2 separate regions of the Homo sapiens genome follow, and region 2 is linked to region 1. A link means that fine-mapping ties the variant in region 1 to the expression of a gene that starts in the linked region. Tissue or cell type: whole blood. Region 1 holds a variant in brackets; the other region holds the start of a gene. All regions are shown on one strand. Distances are between the middles of the regions.

Region 1 (5,315 bases):
CATGAGGCCACTGTTACCCAACTAATAGAAGAGAGTCATGAGCGACACGACACTTCCTTACGACCTCTCTCTCCTAAAACGTAACATTATGTGTTTAACACACGCTTACCACCACTGCTAACTCAGCAAGCGCGATTACAGTGCTCCAACTTAATAAGTTGATAAAAAGCTGTCCCGTGGCCAGTTCACAATGGAACTAAATAGTTTCGTTCCGAGATGCCTGGGGAGTTTCTCTGGCAACGAGGCATTTCCAACAAACGGGTCATTCTGTCACCAGGGGATGGTCTCAGTCCACGGCACAGAGCGACGTGCCCCTGGCAGCACTGTGGAGGGCAAGGGATGCCGCTAGGAGGGGTGCTCAGTCCTCCTGGAGGACCCAAGGAGGGGCTGGCCAAGGGGCCACCTTGAGCTCTGGCCGGAGGGTGATGGCTGGCTTTGCATGAGGAGGTGACAAGAACTTTGGGCTGGGCCCCCAACATGCTGTGTGCACGGGCCTTGTTCAACTCGGAACTGAACTGACACCTCTCCCAGGTGGTGAAGGGCAGAACCCCCCCAGGAGCTCTCGGAAGCAGGGGTCCCTCACGACAGGCCTGTGGCACCAGGCTTGGAGGCAGGGAGCTGGTGTCTCTCAGAAGCGGCGCGTGCTGGTGGGAGGCGGAGGGACAAACGAGGCTGACTCCGCAGCAGCAGTCCCTCACACGCTGTGTGGTGGCTAAAGCTGGACCAAAGTTAAGAAGCGAAACAGCGTGGGAAAAGGTGTCCATCTTTTCTGAAGCCGGTTAATGTCTAGTGTGGACAGCAATATTTGGTGTTTTAACAAACCTGGTCTCTAATAGGGGCCGCCATCGCTGGTGGCTGCACAAACCATTAGCCATATAAGGGAACAGTTGGTATCTTTAAGAGTATTTTTCAAACATGTCACCCGAACATCACCGCCCCAGCAGTGGGAGAGCCGAGGGTGGCCTGCAGCTCCCCCTTCCAGCCCTCTTGTTGCTGCAGGGACGGCTTCCTGTTCAGCTCTGGGGTTCTAGGTGGTCACAGACCAAGTCCTCCACACCTGGGGCATTCAAGAAACACTCCTGATGGCTGTTGGAAGCCACTAACCATCTGAGGAGGGCTCAGTGGCCCTGCCTCCCCCCCGGGGACAGGACTGGACAGAGTGCTTCTCCCAGGGGCCTGAGGCTTTCAAGGGCAGGTGTCCAAGAGGCAGCACACAGCACTGACGTGTTCAGTGGCAGGTTGGAGGATTCCAGCTAAGGCCCCTGCCTGAGAGTGAGAAAAACAACACTCCAAAGCTAGCTCTTCAGCCACCAGGGAACGTCATGATGCCAGTCTGCCGACAGACCCAGGAAAGGGGACACAGGCAGGCCGGCCCAGCTGAGAGCTCACGGCCTCTGCCCCTTCCCGCCAGCTCGCATTCCTGCACCTGGAAACTTCTGCCATGTGTTAAGGGGAAGCTCGTTAAAAGAGTCTTTACTTAGCTGACTTGTATAGGGAACAAAACCACCACAAATGAGACCAACATTATCCTAGTTTGGTAACTGGTCTGCGCACATTACACAAGACTCGACCAACCGACACACCCTGCCTGACACTCCACTCAGTGTGCAGAGGCACCCAGGCCACCAGCCTGCACAGCCCACACCCCAAGGGTGCCACGAGCCCAACTCCAGCTGCGTCCTCAGCACTGGATGGCTGGCCAGCTTCCCCAGGGGGCACCCGCACGGCCTCCTCGTCCCTCTCGGGCAAGGCTATCAGCCAGAGCACCTCCCCTTTGACACTGACCGGCGTCCCCAGCCCCGCCTTGTTACTGCATCCGTCTGAGGTACAAGGTTAGAAGCCACAGACACCCGAGCTGCAGCCTGACCCACACAAGCTGCGGGCGCAATGGCGCTTTGCAGACAAGACAGCCTGCCCGTCTGCCCTTCTTCTCGGCTTCCCTTAAGACACAAGGTGACGACACGGACGGTTTCAAGTGAGTGCAATCTGGAAATAATCTCAGTGCAGGGGAGGGGTTGAGGCCAAAGATGTCGTGACCTGGTCCCCGCTGTGGCCAGGCCGGGCCCACACGCACCGCCAGAGCCCCGGTCACCCACACCTGCCTCCCAGGAAGGCAGCTCCAGAAACCGACTCTACTGACCCTGGACCCCAGCCCCTGCGGTCCCCTCATTTGGGCTCTGCACACTGACCTGCACACTAAGAAGGGCTTTGCTTGCAAACACCTGAAGTGCTGACAGCTTGACGAGTCTACAAAGTGTGCAGCCACCGACTCCTGTCACCGAGGAGCACACAACAGTCACGCCTGTCCCTGGCTGGCACTGGCTTCCGGCACGTTCATACCCTGACAGTGACTGTGGCAAGGCCATGTGGAGGGCACTGAATGGCCTTTGTTGTCCTTACTTCAGATTAGTCGAGGCTGGGATCTCAAGGGTTAACACACTATTCAGAGGGGGGTTGCGAAGCCCCTCTTCCTCCTAAAAATCAAGTCGCAGCCAGGCCCTGAGACTTCTGCACTCCCAGCTGGCGAGGAATCGGCTTTGGTGAGCCCTGGATCCGGCCCCTGGGCCTTCAGATGAGGGTGGGAAGCCTCAGGCAAGGGGTGGCCCCCAGATGAACCCACATTTGGTGTGGTTTGGGTCGGATCTTGATTCGGGTCAGGCCACTGCCACCCCACATCCGCTGCTTTCTTGCCTCCAACTGTTTTATAGTCGTCAGGAC[G/A]AGAAGCCGGAGAAACCAGCTAAGACGGGAGCTGCGCCTCGAGATCCTGACAAGTACAGCCAGGTCTCAGAGAGGGGATCTACAGTCTTAAAGCCGCTAGAGGATCAAGTTGCATAGAGTGAGCTGCCACGGACGCCCGGCCGAGGTGAGGAAGCCAGGGGTGCCGTCCCCCAGAGAAGAAGGGCCACAGTGCCCAGCCCACGGGGCTCCCGCTGGCCGGAGGGCTCGCAGCAAAGCTGGCAGCACTTTCAGTAGTCGGACTTGCCCTGTCCAAGCACGAGATTCACAAGGCCATTCTCAAGTTTCCACACATCCAGAAAATGTTCTTGAAGTCTTGAAAGTCAGCCCTCTGCGATCCTGGGACACCGTGGCCTGGCAGACACACCGTGCGTGAGCAGGTACCCAACTGCCACCCGGACACAAACACACAATCTACAAAGTGCCACCAGCGGCAGGAGACACGGCAAGACCAGAGGCCCATCAAGTACATTAAACAGTCGTTCCTTTAAATACACAGAAAATTCAAGTAATTTATTTAAAAACTGCTTTAGTTTCATCTTGAAATATATATACGTGTATATATATATTTGCTCTAGAATGATCATATTGCAGCATGATTCTCATGCATTTCAAAGTACTTTATTTAAAAAACAACTTGAGGCAGCAAAAGTATTAATTACAATTGTCTGACTTTATCTGTGTGATGTGCGGGGCCTCCCTGTCTCCTGATCTCAGTAAGCCTACACCGACCGTTTCAAATAGGCTTAGTTCTAAAGAGACTGTGGTTTGGAAAACATTTCCAAATAGCTGCAGTACTTGCCCGAGTTTTGCTTATTCGTTGAAACCAGAACGACTGTGCGGAGCCCTCCGGTGACACGGGCCTTAGCTGTCCCAGACGTCTGCGTCCCTTTGCACCTGTCCCGATTCCAGCGTCGAGCAGGTGAGCAGGCGAGGAAGGCATGGAGTTCCGACAGGTTCCAGCACGCATGTCCCCTTCGCAAGCGGGGGAGGCCCTCGCACATCCACACACCCGAGGTAGCCTTGCGGCGGGACTTGGGAGGCAGGGCCCGCTGGGAGCTCTGCTCTCAGGAATCCCCAGCAAATGGTTTAGAGACGAATCAAAGTGCAGTGAAAGTCAACGTTTCCTTCCCCCTGACGTTGGGAGCGGTCTGGAGGGGCAACCTGGCCTCCTAGGAGAGTCCTTCAGACGGGACGAGCGGGGTCACATGGCTGGGCGCAGACACACTCACACGCGCACGCAGGAGCTCGTCTGGAGCTCACGCTCCGCCCCCAGGTGGTGCCCAGCCCATCCCTGGGCAGGGTGTCTGGGAGCCACCCCTGCAAATCACTGTCTTCTGCCCAGGCCCCCCGGACCAGCCTCCTCCCAGCTTTGGTGTGCGGTCGCTGCCCAAGGACAGGGCTGCCCTGGGCACAATGTGTCCAACTCGCTGAGGAAAAGAAGATACGTCATTCTTCTAAGAGAACCACATTGTGGAAAAGAAAATTTTTTTTCTAAAATAATCATAAAGAAAAATACTCTCCAACAGCTGCGGCACCAGCCAATGTGACGAGATCTGACAGACGTCAATACCTGCAGGCGTCTACAGAGAGGAAATTTGATAAAAATATTTTAGTCACTGACTACACTACCATTATCTGAAGCATTCAGATAAGACTTAGCAGAGAATGTCAGATTTTGTTTTCAATTATAATTTTAGAAATGCAAAATCTTATTTTTTCTAAGTTGCTTATTGTCTATATAAATGTTTTATATCATTTAAAAACATGCAGAATAATACACCTGCAGAATAAAAGAGCTGAAATTAAAATATCTTTTTCAATTAAAAAAAATATTTCAAATGATTCTTTTAATTATCGAAAAAGTGGTTAGTGTGGTATTTGCTTAGTAGCTCAAACCTACCCTACGACTACTGAATTGTGGCTATGGGGGCGGAGGGGCTCTGGCCCGCACTGCCGGGTCGGCCACAGCATCTGCAGGGTTCCGCGGTGTCTCTGCTCCCGCCCATGGCCTGGCCCCGCCGCCCGCCCGCCCGCCCACCCGCCCACTGGAATGTGTGTAAACGGGAGTGCGGCTCAGACCACGGACTCTGTCTCCACCGGTCCCTGCAGGCCCTCCTTCCGCGTGAGCTTCAGCACGGTGGGCTTTTCGCTGTTCCCACCGGCCCTGCCTTCGCCGGCCAACGGGGAAGACAGGCCTTTCTGCTCCTCCTTGGCCTCCTCTGACACGTTGGGATAGATCACCAGGAATGTGGCCGTCAGGAAGCCCAGGAAAGAGCCCACAGAGGCCACCATGGGGATGACGCGGACAGTCCCCACGGCGTCGACCACGCCCCCAAGGGCAGAGGCCACCAGGATCTGCGAGATGTACACTTGGCAGGACAGGATGGCACAATCTATGCCAAACCCTCGCTTGGAGTTCCCGGGGCTGTGGTGGATGTACTGCAAGAGAGGAAACACGAGGCGGTGAGCGGCTGGAGAAGGTGGCTGCTACCCGTGCTTCACAACTGTGAGTATTAACCCACAAGCCTGGAAACATGACCCGTCTTCCACCGAGTCTCTTGGCAACCACTCCTGCC
Region 2 (5,171 bases), 98 kb after region 1:
TAGCAGGAACGCGGCTTCCAGCATATTCTGCCTCCACAAATTACAGACACGACTCTGCCAGGGGTGTTCCCAAGAAGGGCACTGGCAATTTGGGGTTGTCTGCCACCTACAGTGCTTGTCAGTCACCCTCACTCGGTGCCAGGCCACAAGGCTGTTGGTCACAAACCACCCCAGCCAGCCACTGGGCGTCAGGACCCTCGGGAAGAGCGGGAGAGGGCACTGGGATGCACCACGGTCAGAACGACAATCACAGCCCGAACCCCTGCGCTGCACTCCTCTGTCCTCCCCACCTCTCTCCTGACAACACAGATACAATCCATTCACCACCAAGCAACCTCAAGATTGGCTGAAATACCTTCCTCGGCTCCTTTCCTCCATCGGGAAAGTGGGGAGCTGCCGCTGCCGCAGCCCTCTCCTTCCCTGCAGATCTGCGGGGCGGGCTGGGGCGGGATCTCAGAGCTCACGGAAAGGAGGCAGAATCCGGTTTACAGGCTTGCTCCGCCCCTCCCCCACCCCCCTCCAATAAGCAAAGTTAGAGGGTGTTACAAGCTGCAAGACACACACCTTGGAGCTCACCCAGTCCAATCTCTGATCTGCTTTCACGATGCGACAAGGGCCAAAGCTGCAGCACGCATCTCGGCAGGGCAGCAGGCCACTCCCCCCACGAGGCCCGGGAGGTGGCCCTGGGCAGCCTCCCCACTCCCCGCCCTGTGAACACCTGGGCCAAAAAAACACACCTTTAAATACCCAGTGTGTATTTCAAACACATTTCAAACGATTTGCTTCTTTCCTTTACAGCCACTGCCACAAAAACAATTAGCCTGAACGGGTGTGAAATCCTTGATGTGTAAGACGACCTAGTTCCCCAGCCTCTCTCTAGAAACACATGAGTTCTTTACTGCGCCTGAGTCTCCTCCACCCGGAACCTGCAGGGCTGCCTCTTCTCATCAAGTGGCTTCTGCAAAACCTCTCCCAAGCATTTAAATAATCTCTGCTCGTTCTTTTAACAATAATTCAAACCTAGCAGAAAAGTGAGGACACTATACATTTCTTTTAAGGACAGTGTGTGTTACCTGCTCTGATCCCCATGTGTTACACTCCCTAACCTGTACACCAATACTCCAGCTTTTTGTTTTCTTATTTTTTCCTAAAGCCAGCACAAAATAACAGAAGGATAAGATTCCTACCACATTCTACCTGTCTGCCAATGACACAGGAAGGATGAGACCGTCTGGGGAATGGAAGCGCAGGGCGCTCTCAGTAATGCTGGGCAGATGCAGTGGCTTTTCCCCAGCAGAAATGGGCTTCGATTCAGAATCTACCAGCCCACAAGAATCATCTGACCCCACAACAATTAGTTCAATCACTCATCTGGTAAACCCTCCTCGCTCCGGGTCATAGACTGGAAAAGACAGCCCCCAAAACAGTAATAAAAACGACAAGCCCTGTTTTGCTGGAGTCAGCTGAGGTATCAGATGGGGGTCAGTGGCTAGGTCTGTGAACCTGAAGCCACACTCCATCAGTGACCCGCACTGGAGAGACACAAACACCTCAGGCTCCTTAGGAGGTCAAGCGGCCCTTCCCAGCCCTCCCTAGCCCCCGCCTTCTAGAATCATTCTGAATAGCTAACCAGGAGGCTGGGCCCCGTGTGGATCCGCCTCCGCTGGAAAAGCCGCTGCTGGAAGTGCTCCAATCCAGAGCAGGATACCTGGGGGAGGAACGGGTTAAGCGCAAAGGGGAAAGGGGCAGCGGGTGCTGAGACGCAGAAGGTGCGGGGACTTCTACAGAGCAGGGAATCTGGGCCCGGATGAACTGATGCCCTGGCCTCTTTCCTCCAGGGACAAGGTCGGTCTCAGGAAATCAAGGTATCTTCAAAGGGACACAAGGGAGCGCAGTGCCGATGAGACCGGGGCAGAGCCACAGTCTGGCGGTGCAGGCTGGGGGTCCGAGGCGGGGGACACTGGCTAGCAGTGCTGCCAGGGTCGTGTGTGCACTGGGCAGAGGGAAAGGAGGGGAAGAAGGGAAGGGGAAGAAGGGGAAGAAGGGAGTGTGTTCGGTTGGGAGGACCGGTCCAGACAGAGGGGAGAGGGGGCCACTTCGCGAGTGGTGTATCGCTGGTTGAATTCTCATAAGTTAGAGATAGCAGGCAGGGGTTAGAAGGACAAGACAGGGTCAGGACCAGGAGTTAGAGGCGCCAGGCTCCTCTCTGGGTAGAGAAACCGAGGAACTGGGGGCGGGGAGGACTGATGGGTGCGAAAGCGGGCCGGGTCCAAATGAAGGCGCGCGCCCCGGGGTGGGGGCCGGGGTGGGGGGAATGAGGGAGGCTGCAGGGCTGGGGACCAGGGCAGGTGCAATCCGGAAAGAGGAGGCGGGAAGGAATTGGGGGGCCCTGAGGAGCCAGCGCAAGCCGGGTGGGGGCACGTCCCCTCCCCCGGAGAAGGTGCGGGGCTGGGGCTGCGGCGCGGACCCGACCTGGAGGCCGAGGCTGTGCGGGAGGTGGGGGTGGGGAGGCTGCAGGTGCCCGGCGCCCAGGTGCGAGGTGCAGGGGGCGGCGGGGCAGGCGGCTGCGGGCGGCAGGCCACTCACCTGTCTCCTCCGGCCGGGGCCGCGGGGGCGGCGGGGCGGCCGGGCCGGGCCGGGCAGGGGCTACGGGGGCGCGGAGCCCCGGGCGCACCGGGGTCGGGAGGCGGCTGCGGGTCCGGGCGGGGGCTGCTCCCTCGGCCGGCCGGCCGGGCGGTCAGTCAGCGACGCGGGCGCGGAGAGAGCGCTGCGAGGCTGCGGCCGGCGCGCGGAGACAACGCCGCTTTATCGGGTCGGAAACAGCCGCTCCGCGCCGCTTCCGCTGACGCAGCGCCGGCCCCTGCGCCTCATGACTATGCAGCACCCGCCGCCGCGGGACGGGGATTCGGGGGGCGGGGTCTGCGCCGCGCGCGCTCATTGGCCTCCGCTGCCGCCCACCCCGCCCCCGAACGGCCGCCCCGCCCCCGCCGCGCCCCTGCCCCGCCCCCGCGCGCACCGTGGCTCCCGCCCCCGTCTCGCCATGGCCCCGCCCCCAGCCATAATCCAGCCCCGCCCCCGCCCTCCTCCCGCTACGCCCCCGGCCCCGGCCCCGGCCCCGGCCCCTCCGCACCGAGCGTCCGCCCTCTCTCCCCTAAAGCGCTGGCCCGCAATCCACCCCATCCCTCTCTGCAGCCGCAGGAGGTGGCCCCCGCCTGTCCCCACCTTCTCTCCCCGCTCCTCTCGCCACTCTGTCGCAGAGGGGTCCGGCTAGCCACGAGGCCCCGGCCCCCGGCAGCCCAGCCCCTTGGCAAGCACCCTCCCGCCCCCTCCGCCCCTGCCCGTGGCGCGGCGACATGGGCCCCATCCAGGTGCTGCAGCCCCTCCTCCGCTGCAGGAGAAAACTCTCCTGTTTTCCCCTCCCTGCCACCCTCCGAAGACCTCCTACCTGGTCCCGGACCACGCCCCCGTCCCCAACTCCCCCAACGCCCCGCGCTCTGCGGGTCCCCTCTCCAACCTGGAGAGCGGGGCAGGACGAAGACCCGACCCGGAGCTTCCTGGAGGCTGGGCCTCCCTCTCAGGCTTGGCCCTGGCCAGGGACACTGATCCGTCTCTCCCCACGTGTAGAAGGGCCACAATCCCTAGGGCAGGACTGCTGGGAAACCCCATCAAGACAAGGTCTGGGGAGGCGGCTTTAACAGACAGATGTGATGGGCTGAGGCCAACCCTGTTAACGTCGCAGCCCTGCACCCTTGCCAGGGTTTAAGTTGCTTTGGAGGAATTACTTCATTTCTCAGAACCTTGGCGTCCTCATCTGTAAAATAGAAATCGTAAGATCCATCTCACCTGTTGCTAAAGGAATTTAGAAGTGAAGTGCAGAGCAGAGCCTCCAAGAGCATCGGAAATGGGAAAATCTGACCATATCAAGTGTTGACAAGGAAATGGAGCAACTGGAACTGCCAGACACTGTTGGTGGACATGCAAAGTGGTACAACTTTCAAAATCTTTTTGAAAGGCCTTGATTACCCAGCAATTCTGCTCCTAGATACACACCTAACATTGTGTTTCTGTTGATAGCAGCAGTGTTTATAATTGCCCCAAACTGGAAACTACTGAAATGCTCATCAGCCGTTAAATGGATACATAAATTGTGATATATTCACACAGTGGAATGACAGCAATGACAGTGAATAATCAACTACACACAACAACATGGATGACTCTCACAAATGATGTTGAGGAAAAGAAGCCAGAGGATAAAAAGCCATATTTGTTTCCATGTGGATAAAGTGGTAGAAGGTGTATATGGGGGTAGCAGTCAGGATAGTGGTTACCCTTGGAGGGAGGGGTGCCAGAGCCAGGAAGCAGGGCACAGAGGACGTGTCTGGGGGCTGGCTGTGTTCTGTGTCTTGGTCTGAGTGCTGGTTACAGTGTGCTCAGTTTATGATGACTTTTCCAGCTGTGCAGTCAAGATGCATGTGCCTGTGGGGCACGGTGATTCACGCCTGTAATTCTAACACTTTGGAAGGCCAAAGCGGGTGGATTGCTTGAGCCCAGGAGTTTGAGACCAGCCTGAGCAACATGGTAAGACCCTATCTCTATTAAAAAAAAAAAAAGACGTGTGTGTTTTTCCATGTGTATGCAGTATCTCAACAGAGGGTTAGTAAGTACATCAATGGTCTGTAGACAGTCCAAAGCAGCATCAGACACATCATGAGTGCTCAAACTGTACATCTGCTTCCCTGGTGATTTTTCTTTCAATGGCCAAAGGATAGAGGCAGCGGCAATTCCAGGTGTGCTGTGAGCCAACTGTGTGAGCCTGGGCGCCTACTTAACCTCCCTGAGTCCTCTTCTATAAGTGAGCATTCTAATAGTACCTAGTTCACAAGTTGTCCTGAAGCTTAAACAAAATAGCAAAATGATGCTTTTTAAAATGACAATACAATCAAGAGGACAGAACAGGTAAAGACTTTGTTTATTCACAAATTGCTGGTATTGATTGAATTGTCTTCATTGTCATTCATGCAGTAACCAACTACTGAGTGTGTGCCTACTATGTGCCACACGCTTTGCTGGGTCCTAGTACTGGAGCTGGGAACATGATCCCATCTCTCTTCTTAAGGAGTGCATTGTGGGGTATGTACCAGCCATGGTAGCCATGGAGCCCAGTCTAG

The links. PIP is the estimated chance that this variant, and not a neighbour inherited with it, causes the effect.
Region 2: it holds the start of SLC45A4, and the variant in region 1 is fine-mapped to the expression of SLC45A4 in whole blood (TOPMed, PIP above 0.99).

Annotation. Positions count from the first base shown.
Region 1 is chr8:141,207,379-141,212,693 of GRCh38, forward strand. SLC45A4 (solute carrier family 45 member 4) reads right to left here. Exons shown (of 9, transcript NM_001286646.2): 8 at 4,819-5,178; 9 at 1-4,319. The coding sequence ends at 4,194. Among named protein-coding and RNA genes, the nearest start is that of SLC45A4-AS1, 45 kb to the right of the region's middle. RefSeq lists enhancers at 938-1,445, 1,446-1,953. The variant G/A (reference allele first, on the strand shown) is at 2,719.
Region 2 is chr8:141,305,510-141,310,680 of GRCh38, forward strand. It overlaps SLC45A4 (solute carrier family 45 member 4), which reads right to left and starts at 2,779. Exons shown (of 9, transcript NM_001286646.2): 1 at 2,587-2,779. RefSeq lists silencers at 2,655-2,754, 2,775-3,014.